Linked DNA regions of Homo sapiens. The protein of the gene in region 3 interacts with the protein of the main gene of each other region in a biochemical or structural test. Each region holds a gene or a part of one and is shown on either strand. Other genes may lie near its edges.

What was found.
Region 1: the proteins of NIN (region 3) and RTRAF form a complex in vitro, tested with the Homo sapiens proteins (one study listed by BioGRID and IntAct).
Region 2: the proteins of NIN (region 3) and AUNIP form a complex in vitro, tested with the Homo sapiens proteins (one study listed by BioGRID).

What each region holds. Positions count from the first base shown.
Region 1 is NC_000014.9:51,985,473-51,992,630, reverse strand, and holds the start of RTRAF (RNA transcription, translation and transport factor protein), read right to left. Parts: upstream 3,086-7,158; 5' UTR 2,992-3,085; coding exon 2,931-2,991; intron 2,113-2,930; exon of another isoform or gene 2,047-2,112; intron 1,315-2,046; coding exon 1,190-1,314; intron 1-1,189. UniProt on the Homo sapiens protein: RNA-binding protein involved in modulation of mRNA transcription by Polymerase II. Component of the tRNA-splicing ligase complex and is required for tRNA ligation.
Region 2 is NC_000001.11:25,856,372-25,863,953, reverse strand, and holds the start of AUNIP (aurora kinase A- and ninein-interacting protein), read left to right. Parts: upstream 1-4,496; 5' UTR 4,497-4,596; coding exon 4,597-4,674; intron 4,675-7,582. Other genes in the region: PAQR7 (membrane progestin receptor alpha), read left to right, coding at 115-1,155. UniProt on the Homo sapiens protein: DNA-binding protein that accumulates at DNA double-strand breaks (DSBs) following DNA damage and promotes DNA resection and homologous recombination.
Region 3 is NC_000014.9:50,828,058-50,834,981, forward strand, and holds the start of NIN (ninein), read right to left. Parts: upstream 3,106-6,924; 5' UTR 2,949-3,105; intron 2,461-2,948; 5' UTR 2,407-2,460; intron 1-2,406. UniProt on the Homo sapiens protein: Centrosomal protein required in the positioning and anchorage of the microtubule minus-end in epithelial cells. May also act as a centrosome maturation factor.

The DNA.
Region 1 (7,158 bases), 1.2 Mb from region 3:
TCAAAGTTTTAAGAAGTCCACTGAAAATTTTAAAAATATTTTCTAAGAGCAAAGGAAAAGAATACAGTAGTATTAATAGTAGTAGTATAGAGGCATTGGCAGTAATAAGCTTATCACACTTGCTATGCGCCAGGGACTTCTGTGAACAATTACTCATTAAAAACAAAGCCACACTTATGAGATAGGTATCATTGTTACCCTCACTTATTGATGAAAAAATTGAGACACGGAAAGGTTAATAACAATGATGTAATTTATACAATCCCTAATTTATAAAATCACTGATTCTAGGGAGAAAGTGCCTAATCACACTGCTCTCGCAAATGAAAAACTTAGCCTTTTTCAAGAAAAATATCTCACTCATCAAATATAACTGATGAAAATGTTTAATGTAAGAAATGACACTAAAAGCATTTTTATTCTAATCTGAGAATTCTTTTTTATGCAAAAGTGTTACTAAAACTAAATCAATGGGAAAATGATTCAAGGCACAAAAATATGATATACCAGAGATCATTTAAGGACTATTTCCCTAGCATACAACAAGGGATATCTGTTTACATTAAATATAAGCATAAACACGACAGTCTTGGTTTTCAAGCATCTCAATAATGTCTTTTTTTGAGACAAGGTGTCACTCTGTCGCCCAGGCTGGAGAACCTCAGCCTCCCAATTAGCTGACACTACAGACACAGGCCAGCACACCCAGATAACTTTCTATTTTCTTGTAGAGACAGGGTTTCATCATGTTGCCCAGGCTGCTGTCAGAACTCCTGAGCTCAAATGATCTGCCACCTCAGCCTCCCAAAGTGCTGGCATTATAGGTGTTAGCCATCACACCTAGCCAATGTCTTCTTTTAATATAAGAAATAGTACTGTGTTTAACAAAAATTCTGATTTGGGCCATAAAGGGAAAGCGAAATATTTACATCATTATTTATTTAAGAAACTTCATGTTTCTAGAGAAAACTATTTCTACCTAATACTGAAAGCTTGGTAGGAAGACATAAAATAATTTGCTCTAAAAGCAAAAGACACATCTAAGAAAAAAGCAAAATCCCTGAAATCCAGCTTTCCTAACACTGATCATTATCATTTTTTTCTTAAAAGAAGAAAGTAATTTTAAGCTCATCTTCATGATTTTTCAGACAAACTCTCTGTATTTTTACTTTACTTCCTAATTCATTACCTTTTCAAAGAACTTGGGCCAGTCGCTGCTGTGGATGTTTCTTAAATTCCCTCTGTCTTCAATCTTGTAGTGCCTGATTTTCTGGTCTTCAAGCCAAACGATGAAGTTTCTAAATTCTGTTTCATCTGCAATAAAAAATATCACATAAATAACTAGAAGCACTACATAAAATACCTCCTTCTCAGGTATATGTTCAGATATATGTTCTTGTGGAATTTTCTTAACTTCAAAATACTAAATTAATTGAACCAAAAGAGGGAGTTGAAAGTACAGATTCTGGAGTTGAAAGTACAGATTAACAATGATCTGTTCAAATCCTGGGTCCAGATACTTACTGGTTGTGTGAACTTGGGATAATCACCCACATTTTCTGTGCCTCAGACTCTTCAGCTACAAAATGAGGGTGCTAATAGAACTTACCTCATAGAGTTATGAAGATTAAAAGAAGTTGTTTTATTTAAGAAGTTTCTTAAATAAAATAAATACGGATAAAAACAGTGCCTGGCACATAGTTTTGCTATTTAAGTGTTACATATTAATATTCCAGTTCCTTTGCGGACAGAAAGGGGAAGGAGGGCAAGGTTAAATTTATAGCAAAGTAATAAAGTAAAATATACAACAAAATAATAAGTAAAAGAAATTAAATGACAAAAAAGACACTGTGACAACTGTTGTCATGGAATGTTAACTGCACATTAAGTGCATAATTGTTTCGTTTAATCCTCCCCATACCTCTTTTGAGGTAGGTAATATCCCATTTTACAGATAAGAACATTGAGACTCAAAGATTCCAATCCAGAACAAGGCTCTATTGTCACTGATACTTTTTTGTTAAAGTAGAAAAACAATAGATTATAATTTGATATGCTTCTACAGGCGATCAACAAAACACTGTCATCCTGCTTAGAAATTATTTTCAATTTGTGAGTCAAATTCAAGCTTCCATTATAAGGTCTTGAGAATTACACAGTGGTCTGAGTATCACAAGTTATACTTGATCACTTTCAAACTTACCAGTCTATCACAGGCCACAACTATACAAAGGAAACGAGTAGTGGTGGGTAGCAGTTTAGTTACAGTGAGTAGCAACGTTATTACTTTTTAAAATTCTAATGCTGTAAAATCCCAAATACCTTTGTATTCACAATTCAACCTTCCCACTCATCTGCTATTAACTTTTTTGCAACACCACATAACACAACTAGCCCGTTACTACACGCGCTTACCCTCCCACTGTGATCGGTCCTGATTTCATTGTGTACTGTCTCAAACTGCTCAGTGGGTTCTGATTGCTTCCACCCCTCGTCCCTTTAGCTCCTGGCAGGCAGTGAACTAGTCTTCAAGTTACTCAGCACCTTCCTCAGAATCCAGCACCGCGCTGGCCCATAATTAGCAGGTGCTCAAGGTATCGCCTAATTACCCAGGGAACCATGGAGTTGAATAGTGAGTGAGAAAGACGAATGCTCTCCCTTTTATGTACAGAGAAGGTAGTTACGTGATGCTTGGAGTTAAGCAAGTGCAGAAAGTAACATGCCGAGACAGGAGTAGGTGAGAGGGCTTTAAAGGCGGGAAGGGGCGGCGAAGAGCCGAGGTACGTGGCGACCCAGAGGAGAGGGGCCCGGAGGCTGCCGGCGGAAACCAGGCCGCCGAGGGTCCCGACGGGGAGGTGGGGTGCGGGCACTGAGGCTGGGACCTCCGCCCAGGTCAGGGACACGCGGCCGGGCTGAGGCCGCCGCCTCACCTTTGCAGTTGAAGCCGGCGGGGTTGTGGTAGTCGAGAGCCGTCAACTTGCGTCGGAACATGGTCCCCGCTTCTCGCTCTGGTCCCCCGGGCCTCGGCCGGGAGAGAAGAAGCGAGGTGGAGCGGGAGGCGCAGGCACCGGCGACGCGGCGAGAGGGCGGGCAGGCGCTGAGTCGCTCCGAAATGACGGCGGCCTTCGCCAATCGTGGCTTAAAAGCGGTGGCCGCCGGCAAATGCCCACCAATCGCGGCTCCGGCTGGGGAGGCGGGGCCACGTCGGCGCACGTCGACGCTCAAATAAACTTTATTGTCAGCTTCCTGGTTGTACAATAGGCAGAAAACCACCGGGAAGCCACTTTCCTTTCTTTCTTGCTATAGCATGCAGAGAATAGTATATGTAGGCTTTTGGTATTCGCTGTACCTCCCGTTGGATTACAGAATTACTGTTTAGTGTTTTGAGTGCATTCATTCATTTTATTACTCCTCCTACATAACAGGTGCTCTTCTAACACTGGTAATACAAAGACTACAAAGCAAGGTCCCTATAGTAAGATGCTTTCAGACTAATTGGGAGTGATCCACAGGTAAACATACAATTGTTAATACGATGCGATCGTTCCAGATATCCTCAGCCAGAGTGAAATCTGAAGCCGAGATCGTCCCTCACTCCCCCTCACCCTCGGTCACAGCATCCAGTAGGTCACCAATTCCTGCCATTCTGTCTCTCCTAACTCTCAAATCCCTCACCTCCTTTCGGACCCCACTGATACAGCCACAGATCAGATCCTCATCACTTTTGCTTACTCTAATTATCTGATTGATTTCTTAGGGCCAGTCCTGCGTTCTCCAAACCATTCCTCCATACAGCGATGAGAGAGATTTTTCTAAAGCAAAAACCTGTACATAACTTTCTCTGCTTATGTTTTAGTGGTTCCTGGTTACCCCCTAGAAATAATCAAAACTCCTTATTGTATTTAAGATCTTTCCTGATCCAGTCTCTACTTGCTTTTCAGACAGTGGAGAGAGAGCAGTGAACAAGACAGACCAGGCCCCTATTTTCATGGAGTTTAAAAGGCTAATGAGGGAAACAATAAACAGATAAGTATAAACTAAGGCTTGAAGATGGTGAGGCATTCACCATGCAGTCAAAAGGGTAACCTAGTTTGAGGGAAGAGGATGTATAAAGGCAAGAAATGAGCAACAGCATGGCCCAGAGGGACTAGAGCTTATAGGGGCTGGAGGGTGAGAGGGAATGACAGCTGATAAGACTATAGACAAAGGCAGGGCTCTGATAAGGAAAAGCCTCTCATGGCAAGCTAAGGGGAGCTATTGAAATTCTTGGGGGTAAGCCAACTATGTACGTTTCATTTCATTTCATTAATTAAGATTTTAATTAAACACTTAGGATCTGAGGAGCATACAAATGAGTAAACTACAGTCTCTATTTTCAGGAAGTTTAAGTATAATGACAAATATAGATGTGTAAATAAATACTTATAATCTGGAGTTAGAAAGAGTAAGTGAATTACAAGAAATATAAAATGTACTACAAAGAAGTACAGGCCAGGTGCAGAAGCTCATGCCTGTAGTCCCAGCACTTTGGGAGGCTGAGGTGGGAGGATAGTTCAAGCCCAGGAGTTTGAGACCAGCCTAGGCAACATAGTGAGACTTTGTCTCTATTAAAACTAAAAAAAAAAAAAAAAGAAGAAAGAAAAATTAGCCTGGCATGCTCGTGTGTGCCTGTGGACCCAGCTACTCAGGAGGCTGAGGTGGGAGGATCACTTGAGCCTGCAAGGTTGAGGCTGCAGTGAGCCATGATCACACCAACCTGTGCAACATGTAAGACCCCATCTCAAAAATAATAATAATAAAAAGAAGTACAGAGGCTAGAATACAGCTTTAGTTTTAAGGGGGCACTGTAAGATAATCTGTATTTTTCAATTAAGGTGCTTATAGAGTGAATCAAGAAAATCAGTTCAAGAGTGTCTCATTTCCAACAAAATTTGATCAAAGATATGGCTATAATCTCATATTGTAGTGCATGCTAGTTGTATAATTAATGAAATACTAACCAAAAAATGAAAAAATGAACCAATCATGGAAGGGAAAATAATAAATACTTACATATAAATAATAAATTAAAAAGGGGGAAAAATACAATTGCAGACCATGAATTTCTTTAAAAAAATAAGGAAAAACATCTCTTACCATTTGTTTTCTGAAATTGACCTTTCAAGGCAAAAAATGAAGTTGTTTGCTCCTGGCCTAGTCTTTCCACTTCAGGGTCCCCATTGTCAGCAACTTAAGACTGTCCCTAGTCATCAGCCCCGGCCACCACCAGGAGTGGGGAGGTTGGAGGAAGATTCAGATGATGCAGAATGCTAAAGTGTCAGGGGATACTTGAGCAGGGGATAAAGCAAACTTTGGGAAAGAAGTATAAAATAAATATTAATCCATTTTTTATGTTAAAACCCAGTTATCTTTTTTTTTCTCTGAATTTGAAGGAGTTCTTTGACCTATTCTGAATGGAGTGTCCAACAGTAAGTGAATCTTACATAATTCCATTTCTGAAGACCAAGCCCTCTGTATACTTCAAGAAAAGGAAACCAACTTTTGTGTGTGTGTGTTTTCATAAGTACCCAGTGTTTAGCTCCCACTTATAAGTGAGAACCTGTGGTATTTGGTTGTCTGTTCCTGTGTTAATTTGCTTAGGATAACGGCCTCCAGCTGCATCCATATTGCTGCAAATTTGGACATAATATTTGTTCTTTTTATGGCTGCATAGTATTCCATGGGGTATATGTACCATATTTTCTTTATCCAGTCAGCCTCTGATGGGCATCTAGGTTGATTCCACGTCTTTGCTATTGTGAACAGTGCTGCAATGAACATGAGAATGCATGTGTCTTTTTGGTGGAAGGATCTGGAAATCAACTTTTATTATCAAATGACCTGAACTCCAATCTAATGGTTGATCATAGGTTTGACAGGCTATTAATTCATCTGTTGAATTGTTCAGTAAAGTGTTTAGAGTGTCAATTACATGCCAGGCAATCTTGTAGGCATTTTGGAGTCATCTGAGAGCTTAAACACAACAACCCTGACCTCAGGGAGCTTATCATTGGGCAAGGGAAGACAAACAGTACAATAATAAATAAATACATTATTTACTATTCAGAAGGTTCTAAGTACTATAGGAAAATTATAACAAGGTAAGGGGGGCAACAAATAGCGGTGGGGATATAATGGGTGTTGCAGTTTTAGACAAGATGGTCAGGTTGGGCCTCATTGAGACAGTGAAGTGTAAGGAAAGCCTAGAAGGAGGTAAGGAAGTTAGCCACACAAATATCTGGGGAAAGAGATTTCTAGATGGAGTACTCAAAAAAAAAAAAACCAAGATAAGAATGGTTTTTATATTTTTAAATGGTTGAAAAATCAAAAGAATAATAATATTTTATGACATGTGAAAGCTATATAAAATTCAAATTTCAGTGTACATAAATAAAGTTGTATTGGAACACAGCCATGCCCATTTGCTAACTGGCTGCTTTGGTGCTACAAGGGCAGAGTTGAATAAATGCAACATAGACCACATGACTCACAAAACCTAAAATATTTGCAAGGGCATATATGGTTGCAGAAATGTAGAGGTGGCCATTTCAACGGTATTGCCAGGGCAACACATTATCAAGAAAGGCAACCAGTCAGAGGTAAAAGTTGCTCTTTGAAGGACAGTTTCACAACTTGTAACAACTTTTAAAGTCTTGGCAGTTTTACTAGAAGCCTTTGTTCAAATTAGTCTTCCGAAAACAGTGAACAGAACAAGTTGGTAATAACCAGGAATAGCCACAAAAGTCTCTACAGTGCACAGAAAAACAGGTTTTATATTCTAATGAATGTTATCAATTGAACACCCCATGAAATCAGAATTTTTGGAACAAGTTGTATAATGCAGAAAGGTCTCTCTCCCTGGGGGAGCCTCCCGATGAGCAAACATCTCCTTTATCTCTTTCTGAGACTCTTTATGTTAAATATGAAAACTTGCTGCTTTTTAAGGTCAAGCTCTGGAATTTCATGATTTAGCATTAAAAGCAAAATGGCAGGGCAGTAGAACTCAATTTTATTGGTAGAAAACGAATAGGAATGAATAGGAATTTATGTAGTCATGCAAACAGCATAAAGCATTCACCTTCCACATCTAATACTGCAGAGGAAACACTTGCCGAACAG
Region 2 (7,582 bases), on a different chromosome or scaffold from region 3:
AGGGAGTAGGATTTGGGCATCAGAGCCCCCCAGCTGCTGCTCGTGGGGGTGAGGACACCAGGCCCCTGACTTTGCTCTGGTCTCTCTCCCAGCTCCCTGCCCAGGCCCACAGCCATGGCCATGGCCCAGAAACTCAGCCACCTCCTGCCGAGTCTGCGGCAGGTCATCCAGGAGCCTCAGCTATCTCTGCAGCCAGAGCCTGTCTTCACGGTGGATCGAGCTGAGGTGCCGCCGCTCTTCTGGAAGCCGTACATCTATGCGGGCTACCGGCCGCTGCATCAGACCTGGCGCTTCTATTTCCGCACGCTGTTCCAGCAGCACAACGAGGCCGTGAATGTCTGGACCCACCTGCTGGCGGCCCTGGTACTGCTGCTGCGGCTGGCCCTCTTTGTGGAGACCGTGGACTTCTGGGGAGACCCACACGCCCTGCCCCTCTTCATCATTGTCCTTGCCTCTTTCACCTACCTCTCCTTCAGTGCCTTGGCTCACCTCCTGCAGGCCAAGTCTGAGTTCTGGCATTACAGCTTCTTCTTCCTGGACTATGTGGGGGTGGCCGTGTACCAGTTTGGCAGTGCCTTGGCACACTTCTACTATGCTATCGAGCCCGCCTGGCATGCCCAGGTGCAGGCTGTTTTTCTGCCCATGGCTGCCTTTCTCGCCTGGCTTTCCTGCATTGGCTCCTGCTATAACAAGTACATCCAGAAACCAGGCCTGCTGGGCCGCACATGCCAGGAGGTGCCCTCCGTCCTGGCCTACGCACTGGACATTAGTCCTGTGGTGCATCGTATCTTCGTGTCCTCCGACCCCACCACGGATGATCCAGCTCTTCTCTACCACAAGTGCCAGGTGGTCTTCTTTCTGCTGGCTGCTGCCTTCTTCTCTACCTTCATGCCCGAGCGCTGGTTCCCTGGCAGCTGCCATGTCTTCGGGCAGGGCCACCAACTTTTCCACATCTTCTTGGTGCTGTGCACGCTGGCTCAGCTGGAGGCTGTGGCACTGGACTATGAGGCCCGACGGCCCATCTATGAGCCTCTGCACACGCACTGGCCTCACAACTTTTCTGGCCTCTTCCTGCTCACGGTGGGCAGCAGCATCCTCACTGCATTCCTCCTGAGCCAGCTGGTACAGCGCAAACTTGATCAGAAGACCAAGTGAAGGGGGATGGCATCTGGTAGGGAGGGAGGTATAGTTGGGGGACAGGGGTCTGGGTTTGGCTCCAGGTGGGAACAAGGCCTGGTAAAGTTGTTTGTGTCTGGCCCACAGTGACTCTCTGTGCACGACTCAACTGCCAAGGGCATCACTGGCCAATTCTTGGATTTAGGGATTGGCTAGGAGTTGCTGGGGTCCACTCCTGGGCCTGCCCCAGCTCCTTGCCCAGGGAGAGGGAAAGAGTTAACGGTGTGGGCCACTCCAGCTTGCCCTTCCACTGCCACTCACTGGGGTGAGGCTGGGGGTCAGCTTGGTGAGGATTGGGGCTTCTAGATTGTCTAGGCAGGAGGTGAAACTTAGGCCAGAGTCAGATTTGAGCTGAGCCAGGGGAGGCCTTGGCAACCTACTTCTACTCAGATTTCATTGCTGGATGCGGAAGGGGTAGGCCCAAAATATATACAGGATCTTACTGTCCCTTGAAGCCCAGCCACAAGTGTTGGAGCTGCAGAGAGACCCCAAAGGTAGTAGATTGTGCCAGATACAAATGGGTCCCATCCAGTGCTTCATACTCCTTCAGTCACTATCCCAGACAGTGAGCCCCAGATCTCCTAGCTCTGGCTTCTGTGTCCCACACGGCCTGTTCCCAGCTTCTCTCCTGGTTCCCTTGTTACGGATTCATTTATCCATTCAGTGTTTCCTGGGCCTCTGCTCAGAGGCAGGTCACCACTGGGCCCTGTGGATCAATGCAAGATGACAAAGGCTTTTTTTTTTTTTTTTTTTTTTTTTTTTTTTGAGGAGTTTCGCTCTTGTTGGCTAGGCTGGAGTAAAATGGTGCGATCTCGGCTCACTGCACCTCCGCCTCCCAGGTTCAAGCGATTTTCCTGCCTCAGCCTCCCGAGTAGCTGGGGTTACAGGCATGCACCACCATGCCTGGCTAATTTTCTGTATTTTTAGTAGAGACGGGGTTTCTCCATGTTGGTCAGGCTGGTCTTGAACTCCTGACCTCAGGTGATCTGCCCGTCTCGGCCTCCCAAAGTGCTGGGATTACCGGCATGAGCCACTGCGCCTGGCCGACAAAGGCTTTGATATCAGAATGAACTGTCAAGGGAGGTGCTGGAGAGGGATTAACCTGTGCTGCCTGGGACCCTCAGGGTCTTAGGTTGGGGAGTGTGAATAGGAGTTTGCAGATGGAGAATAGGAAGGGCATTCCAGGCAGAGGGAAACCTGTGCAGAGACCAAGAGGTGTGGAAGGAAAAGTGGGGTTGGGGCTGGGTGGTCTGGATTATGGCCTGGATGCAATAAAGTACTGTGACAGTAGCCACCTCTTTGTTTTTTGTCTCCTGTTTCCGGGAGGGGCCCCTGCTCACATTACTGGAGGTTTTCCGGAGGAAGCTGGGGCCCCTGGGAGTGGACACAGGGTGCAGGGAGCAGTTCTTGTTTTATCTTTGCTGGGGGATGGGGTTGGGGCCTTATATACCATATCTATATATACAAAATTTGTTTGGCAAGGGAGTGGGCGGCAGTTTTATTACTAAAGTTTTATAAGTAGTTAAAATAATGTGTTTAAAATATGATAATCCCACTTTATGATCTGACAAAGACTTTTTTTGTTTGGTTTTTCCTTCAATTAAGGAGGGTTTTTTTGTTTTGTTTTTAGTGGAGGGGGCAGGGGCGTGCACACTCCACCACACATATTGAGCCTCGTCGCATGCGCACCGAAGAAGTATGTTAACTTTTATAATATTGCTTTTTCCATAGTACACAGCAATATATATACAATGAAGGAAAATTGGGAAGATAAGAAAACCCAAATTAATTAGAAATATCACTTCACTGCTGAAATATCATGGGGGACCTTATGAAATACACACACACACACACACACACACACACACACACACACACATAAAATATGTGTATATAAATAAATATTTTGATATAGGCCAGGCATGGTGACTCACGCTTGTAATCCCAGCACTTTGGGAGGCTGAGGCAGGCATATCACCTGAGGGCAGGAAGTTGAGACCAGTCTGGCCAACATGGCGAAAACCCATCTCTACTAAAAATACAAAAATTAGCCAGGCGTGGTGGCACACACCTGTAGTCCCAGCTACTTGGGAGGCTGAGGTGGCAGGATCGCTTGAGCCCAAGAGGTTGAGGCTGCAGTGAGCTGAGACTGTGCCACTGTACCCGAGCCTGGGTGACAAAGCGAGATGGCTCTGTCCACCATGAAGACAGGCTCTGGCTGCAGAGATGGTTGAGGTTCCTGGCTGACCTGCTGCAGACTGGGCAAGAGGTGGCTGAGCTTCTATCCTCCCTCCACCAAAAAAAAAAAATTACAAAATTTTTGGCCGGGCGCGGTGGCTCATGCCTGTAATCCCAGCACTTTGGGAGGCTGAGGCAGGCGTATCACGAGGTCAGGAGTTCGAGACCAGCCTGGCCAATGGTGAAACCCCGTCTCTACTAAAAATACAAAAATTAGCTGGGTGTGGTGGCGTGCGCCTGTACTTCCAGCTACTAGGGAGGCTGAGACAGAAGAACCGCTTGAACCCAGGAGGCGGGGCTGCAGTGAGCCGAGATAGCGCCACTGCACTCCAGCCTGGGCGACAGTGAGACTCCGTCTCAAAAAAAAATTTTTTTTACATATACAATATGTAAACATTACGTATAATGTACATATATTCCATCTATGGAGATTGTGGTTAGGGACGGAAGGATGGGTGGGGGTGCCAACATTTTTGCATTTCCAAGGGGTTTTCTGAATTCACAAAGTACTTTCACAACCTCATTTGATCCTCTTTAAAATCCAAGGCACAGTAAACGGTGAAAGCAGGACTGAAATCTAGTTCCTGACCCCAAATTTTAACCTCTTCAAAATCCTCTCCCATGTGGCTTCGTAGTTACGCTTACATTAAAAAAAAAAAATTACCAAAGTTGTTCGCACACTCGAGTGTCTGGTAACCACTTAGGTCGAGGACCCCTGGTCTGGAGTCGACGGGCCTGATCTCGGCTCAGCCACTTCCTTCTGGGGGTGATCGCGAAGATTCAGCGATGACACGAACAAATTCCTAAGCCCGGGAAATACTGTAAGAAATTTTCAATACAGCAAAAAGAAAATGTACATTTCTGAGGCTGTCGAGAACCGTTCACACAGCAGCTTCCGAATCCGCTCTTGAAAGAGCGGATCAGAAAGAACACGCACTCCTCCGCGCAGGGAAATATGCCGCACGCACTCAAGGGACCGGCCGCGAAAGTTAGTGCGTGGGCGGGGCACAGCGAAGGGGGCCAGGGCCTTGCCGGGGCGGGGCTGGCGCCCGGGGCGGTCGCGACGTAGCCCCGCCCCCAGCGTTGGCGCGAGATCCGAACGTCGGCGGCCGCGGTTCTGGCGTTCCCTGAGGCGCCGGGAGCCTGCGCCGGCGTCCTGCCGGCTTCGTCTCCTCAGCGGCCATGAGGCGGACAGGCCCCGAGGAGGAGGCCTGCGGCGTGTGGCTGGACGCGGCGGCGCTGAAGAGGCGGAAAGTGCAGGTGGGACGCTGGGGGATGAGAGGGCGTTGGGAACCAGGTAGGGCCTGGAGGCGTAAGACGGGAGGAGTTTGGGGGACACCTGGAGATGATGAAAGCGAAGTCGGGGACAGAGAAGGGAACAGCGTTGGGGATTCACAGGCGAGAGGGATTGTGGTCTGAAGAAGGTTGAAAAACGGGGCTTGGGGAGGATGGGAGGGACGGAAGGAAAGAGCGTGCTGTTGGGGGGTCTGGAGGAGCGGTGCGCAGGGAGGGGCGGCGAAGGTTCAGGTGTGGGAGAGGCGGAGGGAAAGTTCGCTCGGAGCAGTTGAACTGACCAGGCTCCCTAGGAGGCCACAGTCCCTGCGAGACGTCCTAGTAGAGGCTGGAGCATTGGGAGATGGATGCGAATGCAAATTGGGGAAATTCTCACCCCGGGGTCTGTTTCCACCCAATTTGCCAAGTTGCAGGCCAACTACCTGCCCAGAACCGGTAACTTTGAGGGGAAAAGTAGAAGCTATGGGAAGGGGAGCTGGCCTCCTATGTACTGAGCAGTCACTGGGTGCCGGATACTGCATTAGATACTGAATATGCGTTATATGTGTCGTCATTCTTGCTGGGAATGAGGAAACTGAGGTTCAGTAACTAACCTAGGCCCGCCTAACTAGAAGGAGCTGGAAATCACATTCAGGTCTGTCACCTAGGCAAGATGCTCTTCAGTCACTGTAAAGAAACAAAAGTGCGACATAATAATCATTCATGTTTATTGAGCATTTTATGCTGGTGCTAAGTGTTTTAGGTATGTTACCTTGTTTGGTACAATTCTATATGGTAGATAGTGTAATGATACCCATTTTACATACGGAAAACAGGCTCAAAACAGACACTAGGGGCAAGATTCTTGCTCTCAGGTTGCTCACAGTCTTATAGGGAAGAAAAGAGGTGTATAAATAATAACAACAATACCTAACCTTTATTGAGTGCTTTCTATGTGTCAGGCATTTTGCCGAGACTTTATACACTTTATCAATGGCAGGTACTCACCAAAATTCAGTAAAGTAGATTTTGTCATTATCCTGGTTTTATAGATAAGAAATTTGATCATTTTATTATTATTATTTATTATTATTATTTTTTGAGATGGAGTCTTGCTCTGTCGCCCAGGCTGGAGTGCAGTGACACAATCTCAGTTCCCTGCAAGCCCCACCTCCGGGGTTCACGCCATTCTCCTGCCTCAGCCTCCTGAGTAGCTGGGACTACAGGCGGCCACCACCACGCCCGGCTAATTTTTTGTATTTTTAGTAGAGACAGGTTTTCACCGTGTTAGCCAGGATGGTCTCGCTCTCCTGACCTCGTGATCTGCCCGCCTCAGCCTCCCAGAGTGCTGGGATTACAGGCGTGAGCCACTGCGCCCGGCATATTATTATTATTGTTATTTTTGAGATGGAGTTTCACTCTTGTTGCTCGTGCTGGAGTGCAGTGGCGCGATCTAAGCTCACTGCAACCTCTGCCTCCCGGGTTCAAGCGATTCTTCCGCCTCAGCCTCCCGAGTAGCTGGGACTACAGGCGCCCGCCACTACGCTCGGCTGATTTTTGTATTTTTAGTAGAGACAGGGTTTCACTATGTTGGCCAGGCTGGTCTTGAACTCCTGACCTCAAGTGATCCGCCCGTCTCGGCCTCCCAAAGTGCTGAGATTACAGGCTTGAGCTACCGTGCCTGGCCGATTGTTTTATTTTTTCAAAAATTATCAAAATGGCCGGGTGCGGTGGCTCACGCCTGTAATCCTAGTACTTTGGGAGGCCGAGGCGGGCGGATCACCTGAGGTCAGGAGTTCGAGACCGGCCTGGCCAACATGGTGAAACCCCGTCTCTCCTATAAAAAATACAAAAATTTGCTGGGCGTGGTGGCAGGTACCTGTAATCCCAGCTACTCGGGAGGCTGAGACAGGAGAATTGCTTGAACCCAGGAGGTGGAGGTTGCAGTGAGCCGAGATCGTGCCACTGCACTCCAGCCTGGGTGACAGAAGACTCAGTCTCAAAAAAAAAAAAAAAAAAATCAAAATGTGCAATAGCTATTTATTACTCCTTGAATTAGGAATAAGCCATTTGTACCCTTTGAATACATTCTTGAATGACATGGGATGCGTGGGAAACTTGTATACCACTTTGATTTGTTAGTTAATTTTGGAGACAGGCCTCAGTCCGTCACCCAGGCTAGAGTGCGGTGGCGTAATCACGACTACCTACAGCCTCAACGCCCCCGGGCTCCAGGTGATCCTCTTGCCTCATCCTCCCGAGTAGCTGGGACTACAGGCATAGTGCCACAAAGCCCAGCTCATTTTTTGTATTTTTTTTTTTTGTAGAGACGGGGTTTCGCTGTGTTACCTAGGCTGGTCTTGAACTCCTGAGCTCAAGTGATCTGCCCACCGTGGCTTCTCAAAGTGCTGGGATTACAGGTGTGAGCCACTGCACCCAGCCACCAGTTTAATTTAGAAAGAGAACAGAAATAGAATTAGGAAGAGTTCAGGAGAGCGAGAAAGGGAATATTCCACAGGGAAGAGGAGAGCCAATATTTGTCTCTCTGTCTATAATTCTGTTTTGTTGTTGTTGTTGTTGTTGTTGTTTTCCGAAATGGAGTCTTGCTCTTGTTGCCCGGGCTGGAGTGCAGTGGTGCGATCTCAGCTCACTGCAACCTCCACCTCCTGGGTTCAAGCAGTTCCCCTGCCTCAGTCTCCAGAGTAGCTGGGATTACAGGCATGCACCACCTTGCCCAGGTGAATTTGTATTTTTAGTAGAGACGGGGTTTCTCCATGTTGGTTAGGCTGGTCTTGAACTCCCAACCTGAGGTGATCCACCTGCCTCGGCCTCCTGGGATTACAGGCGTGAGCCACTACGCCCAGCCTAATCTTGTTTTATTGTTTGTTTTGTTTTT
Region 3 (6,924 bases):
CTAAGTAAATTACAGAAGCAGAAAACAGAGCTGCATGTTTGTTACAAAAAAAAAAAAAAAGGAGAAAGCTTATAACAACTTCCACTTCTTAAGCCATATTGACTCACATTAATTTAGGATGCCTGAGGCTATGAGTATGGTACCCTGAGGTGTAAGTGAAGGTGATCTTCTCTTCTCACGTCTATGAACAATATTTTCCCAACTTTGTTTTTAAAGTGAGAATTAGGGTATAGATAGATGCTTTGTAATTTTTCCATCCAAAAGCTTGAATAAATGGTTAATTGCTGACTTAAATTGCAATAAAGAAGTGTCCTAATTTCAAACAAGGATGCTCACTTTCAGAATCTCATAATCTTTTCAAAATTCTATTTTATTCATAAATAGGATAAAAATCTTTTTGCAAGCTTCACTAAGTCTCTCCATAAGCCCCTGCCCAACAGATGCAAGTTCAATAGCTAGAATTCAAACCAGATAATTTATTGGCTTACAAATGAATTGGCATCTATAAAAATAAGCCTTCTAAAAAGGCTTCACGCTGTTTAAATCCTTCTAAAATGCTCTGGCTAAGCTTGCCCACCCTTTATCAATGTAAGACTGATAAAATGCATTTTCATTATCAACATAAAATGGAAGCATCAAGATAGTTGAAATGTTAGTTTAGAAAGTCATTTGCAGTGACATTTAAAACAATTTATTTGAACATTTGACTCATGATAAGAATACTGCCTATTACATTAAGATTGGCTGTTCAGAATTCACTGGAGCCCTATTCTCCCCCTCTGTGACAGTTAACATCTTTTGATATTAAGGGTCATTACACATCTAAAATGAAAAAGAAATAAGAAAAAAGAACCCCACGCCATTCTGAGCAAGTGCCTATTAAAATGACTGATCCTTGACATTTTAATGCAGACTGTATGATGGCTTCCTCTCTATTGCCCCCTGTGAAGCCTTTCCCTGTATTGGTAATAACTTTGCCGATGTCCAACCCTGTGGAACATTCATCCTACCTTTTCCCCACTCTGCAGAATGCTTCCCTCTAAAGAATCACCAGAGAACAGGGAAAATAAACAAATCTGCAAACAAATTCCCGGGCAGTTCACATCACCTCCCAAAGGACACTGACAATAGCTGAAGAGACCACAACACACAAACTCGTTTTTCAGCCAGCCTGTAATGTTCCTCCTATACACACTCTGGAAATCCTCAGCTCCCTTCAACTCCGGAGCAAGAGCCACCAATATTCCAGGTCAGCCACCTATATAATATGCTCACCACGAGAGAAGACTCAAGGTAAAATTAAACTGACAGAAAAAAGGAATTTTCCTTGTTAGATCATCAAGCCTCCGGAATCATGCAAACATGTGTGTATGTTATGGTGTTTACGGGGACCTAACTGAGAAACGTCGTGGTTCCAGGGGCTTCCCTCATGTGTCAGGATGGACTTTATCAGGATTCTCATCCTACAAAGCTACCATGTCAGTCACAAAAGACAACTACGCAATCTGTTTCGATGTAATAAATTCAGGAGTTGAGCTGTATGGCAAGCCCATCTTAGAAGTCCTCAACACCAGGAGAGGATCTGTCCTAGTTAGGAGCAGAAAGCAGATCTCATAATATCCAAGTTGTCTGGAAACATGATATATGGTAGGGCAGTCTTTCCAGCTCCCATTTTGTTGGTGCCTTCACCTCGGGTTGTCAGGGCTGGGGTTAGGGAAATTGCCTCTTTCCGTCTCTATCTCTTTTAACTTCGCAGCGAGAGCTGGAAGCAGTGACTGTTCCCATCACCTAGTGTCCTTCTGTCAGGGGCCGCTTCGGTAGCTACAGAAGCCTAGCCGCTGGAAGCTTCCTTCCCCGACACTCCATACCTCCATGCCACACCTTTTAGGCAATAACCAAATGTCATTTTGTTCTTTCCCCTTCTCCTGGGCATTATACTGGGAAACTGTTTACGCGCATCGACCCCGCACACCTCCAAAAATCTCCACTTTCCGGGCTCCAAGCAGCTCTCCGCTACTCAGACAGCCCAGGCTAACACCTCGGATTTCCCCATGCAGTTTCCTCTGCAGCGTCTCAATCACAAGGCTGTACGGGCGGCACATGCCAACGGAACCACCACCCCTTCTGCTCCCTCGGGGACTCAAGCCTGCTCTCGGTCAAAGCACAGAAGCGGCTTTCAGCTCCGGGCAGGCGGCCGGGGCGTCGGGGGTACTGGAAGTGCCCAAACCCAGCGGTGCTGCCGCGCGGGGAAGCGGAGGTGCGGCCGCAGGACAAGCGCGCCTCCCAAGTCCCTGGCCACCTGCGATGCGTCCTCAACTCGCCTGCCCATCGCCACTACCAGAAACCTCAGACAGCCCATTGTGTGGGCAGGCAGCGCGCTCCCCCGGCCCCGCCGCCCTCGCCTACCTTCTGTCGGTCTCTCCGGAGCGCCCGCACAGCCGGCAGCCCGCCTCCAGCGCTCTGCAAAGCGAAGGAGGACGCTTTGTTAGGGCTGGAGAAACGGGACAATACTTCGCAGCCGGCGCAGCGGTTCCGGGCGGGCGTCCTTCAAAAGGACGCGAATGGGGACCCGCGTGAGCGTCATTTCCATATGTAAGGGGCCAGCTCTTACAAAAGCGCGGCTCTCGGGGGCCGCGGGCTGCAGCGCGCATCCTCCCCGCCCCCGCCGGCCCGCCCCCGCCCGCGCAGCCCGCGCCTCCGGGACCGGCCCCTCCTCCCGCCTCCGAAGCAGCCCCGTCCCCGCCTCGTCCTCCCGCCCGGCCGCTGCTTCCTCCCGGCCCGCAGGGATTGCGCCCCGCTGGCCCCGGACCCCAAATGGGAAGCCCCCGAGTGATCCGGTGCCCAGTTCGCTCCGGGCTCTCAGGGCCTCGCCGACGGCGCGGGGGCAGCGCGAGGCCTCCGTGCACCCCCAGGCCGTGGGTCCGGGTCCCCGGGGTTGCGCCACTTACTGCGTCCCGGGGCTCAGGCGCCCGGCGCCGCCGCGGGAACCATGGCCGCTGGCGCACTCCGGGCTTGGCGGCGGCAGCGGGACGGCCGCGCCCAGCGCGCTCGGCTCCCGGCTCGGCCGCGGCCACCCGGAGCTCTGGACGCCGGGGAGGAAGGGCCGGGCCCGCGCGGGGAGGAGGAGTCAGGGCGACGCCGGCCCCGGCGCGGCTCCTCCTCTGCGGCCCGCGCGGCTCAGGCAGCGGAGGGAGGAGCGGGCGGCGCCGCCTGAGCCCTCGCAGACGCGCCCTCCCGCTCCGAGCGCCCGCCTCCGAGATCTGAAGTTAGAAACGCCGGGGCTCCGGGTGCGGGTGTAGGAGGCTGGCGCCCCGAGGTCGCCACCGAGCTGGGGCTGGCGCTGCCACCCTCGCCCCTTGCCTGTCCGCCTCCCTTTCTTTCCCAACACGCCTACACTCACCCGCACCGCGGACACTCGGGCCGCAGCGTCTTCGCGCAGAGGAAGGGCCCCCGCCTTCAGCAAGCGGGACTTTAAGGGGGTGATTTCCCAGCCCTCGGGTGTCGATTGGCCATCAACATTGGAAAGGGTGTTCAGGAGGCAGAAGGGCTGTAGAAGTGACTCGGAACCCTGTAGAGCGAGCGCGACCCTCCTGCCGGGTCTACACTGGCTTCCGCACCTGCCCACCACGTCCTCACAGGCTCCCGCCCCTGTGCAGCCTTCTCCGGGTGAAGCTAACCCTCGGTCGCAAGCCACACAGGACGAAAACTCCTTGGAGTTGGTGGTTCCCAGCCCAACAGTTGCTCGATATTAATCGCCTCCTACCTACTACCCCAGAGTCTGCGTTCTCACTCCCCCATCCCTACACTTCTGATCTCATTGCAGTCAAATAGGATCCCAAGTCCAGGCCATGGTTCTTTTTGAGCTGCAGGGTTAAATGTGTTGCCCTTGAAGGATCCGCCTGATGGATTACAACCCACAAGTCTGGTTATTTTAGCAGGAAACTGGTGATTCCTTTTCTACCGAGAAAGCAAGCAACAGACAAGAGGAAACCAGCATTCCTTGAGAATCCAGTGCGCTAGAAACTCGACAGAAATTATCTTATCTAATTCTCACATCACTCTTAGGAGGCAGACATTATTTTGCAGATGAGGAAAATGGATCTCCCAGAAGTCAAAGAGCTTCCTCAGGATCACACAGCAGGAACTCCACAGAACTGAGATTCAAAAGCAGATCACATATGTGGCAAAATTGCATAGAACTGAATATACACTCACAAATGAGAGCACGTGAAACTCATGAAATTTGAATAAGACATTTGGACTACACTAATGTCCATTTACTGATTGTAATATTGTTCTACAGTTATGCAAAATGTTACCATTGAGAAAAATTAAGTGAAGCGTCTATAGGGAATCTCTCTATTATTCCTTACAACTTCAAGCGAATTTACAGTTACCTCAAAAAATTTTTTTAAAAATTTTAAACATCTCAGTCTTATTCAAAAGCCCAGGCTCTCTTCTTTCAACACGGTATATAAGCGTGCCTGCAGAATAAGAGAGATTTATGCTCCTCTCTCCTTTTTAAACAGTCTTGAATAAGTACACATACACACACAAACACACACTCATACACTGTATGCATGGTTGTTCAGTCATCCAGTAATATGATACAACACACACACACACACACGCAGTTCATTAAGAGGATAGCTAACCTGTTACCAGAATACTTACATAGAGGTCATCTTGTAAGACAGACAATAATGCTCACTGGGCACTAAAACAGCCAACAGTCTTGGAAGGTAAGAATGAAGAGGTGTCTTTCTTGTTTCACCTAATCTCTGCCATGGAAGCCTCATCCTACTGGTTACCTCTCCAAGCATCGCTTTTTAACCTGCAAGAATCCTTAAGGATGATATTGATCATTAGTTTAAAACAGTGATTCCTGGGGGTCAGGGGATATTGGAAGTGGCATTCACTCCCTGTGCAGGAAGATCAGAATTGCTGGGGGTTGTGTAATTTGAAAAACACAAGATGCGCTTTCTTGAGAGGAGTAAGTGGGGTGGAGTTAGCCCTGGGACTGGGAACTGGGATCACCTCCAGCCTTGCTACAAAGGAGGGAAAGCATGGAGCATGGTTACCGCGTGGTGTGGGTTGGCAAGAGCAACTCTACCAAGAAAGATGATTTATTTAACACAATGGGCCTGCAGTTTGGTTTGCACTGAGCACATGGTTAGTCTTAGTCCAAACTGGAGTCATGGGAAAAAAAAGCAGAGACTTCCTTTAGAGCCCATTACTTGATCTTTTCTCTGTTAAACACAAAATAACAGCAGAAGTAGCAACCAGGCTCCAGTTCTACATTATAACCAATATAAGAGAGAAAAGAAGAAATGTAAATATTTATTCAGAGTTATCACCCTTTACAAACAAAACTTCACTCTTATCTGTTGCAGCTTATCTGACTCTGATTTTTACTCTCACTTTACAAAGAACCTTGTTCAAGGACCTAGGATCCTTGAAGTATTTGTACGTGAAGTTTTTGAAGGGTTTTCTGCCATATTTCACAGTACGGAACTGGCTTTCTCAGATGGTTAAAGCTCTAAAACGTTAACTAAAGAATAATCCAGGGAAGAGAAAGTTACTCTTTGTTTCTTTTCTTTCTTTTTATTTATTTATTTATTTATTTTTTGAGATGGAGTCTTACTGTGTCGCCCAGGCTGGAGTGCAGTGGTGCAATCTTGTCTCACTGAAACCTCCACCTCCTGGCCTCCTGCGTTCAAGCGATTCTTCTGACTCATCCTCCCAAGTAGCTGGGATTACAGATGTGCACAACCACATCTGGCTAATTTTTGAATTTTTAGTAGAGACAAGGTTTCACCATGTTGGTCAAGCTGGTCTTGAATTCCTGACCTCAAGTGATCCTGCCTCGGCCTCCCAAAGTGCTGGGATTACAGGCGTGAGCCACCACGCCTGGCCTACTCTTTGTTTCTTCTTGAAGTAATTTTGAAATTATCAGTTTAGAGTCAAGACGACAAATGAGAGAGAGAGAGAAAAAGAGAGAGAAAAAGTCAGGCTTTGTAAATTTCCTGGAACCTGAAAAGTTATTTTTTTTTTTCTTAGCCAAAAAAAGGCTCTAACCAAACATAGTCTACCCTCTCCCAACTCACAGTTGGGTATAAACTATTTTTTATTCACAGAATAGTCAAACAGCCTGTCACTCATGTAGCAACTCCTGGCTCCTTCTAAACTTCTTTAATCGATATCTTTCTTATTTCTGTGACCATTTGAACTCAGCAGGACAGTTTTCAGGCAAGTTGCAGAGCTGTGTCAAAGACAGCCAGATTGTTAAAGTAGATGATCAGTTATAGTTTGGCCCAGGAACTCACTCGGTGAAAGAAAGGGACATCAATGATCTCCCCAAGGCCCTAAGGAAAATGAATGAGGAAAGGAAAAAGGGAGAAATTTGAGTTCCAGACATACAAGTCAGGGACTTAAGAGTTCCAGCAGCAAAATGTTGGTGGTTAAGAACCCAGGAAGAAAGAGGAAAAGTATAGGAAAGGGAAGGGAAGGTGACAGAAGGCAAACTGATTTACACTTTTGCCCCTGGGGGACACCTATTAGAAATTAGGATTCTCTATTCATTTTCCTTATGAAGAAAATGAAAGAAGAGGAAACCAGGATTCCATACAATTTATTTTTTTAAAGTAAGCATTGATTGCCTACCCTGTGCCTAATACTGTCCTGAAAGTCACACAATGTTCAAAATAAACATCAGGCTGGGCATGGTGGCTCACACCTGTAATCCCAACATTTCTGGGGGCTAAGGTGGGTGGATGGCTTGAGCTCAGGAGTTCAAGACCAGCCTGGGCAACACAGTGAGACCCCCCTTCTCTACTCCTCTTTTTTTATTAGCCAGGCTGGGTAGCACGTGCCTCTGGTCCCAACTTCTCAGGAGACTGACATAGGAGCATCGATTGAGCCCAG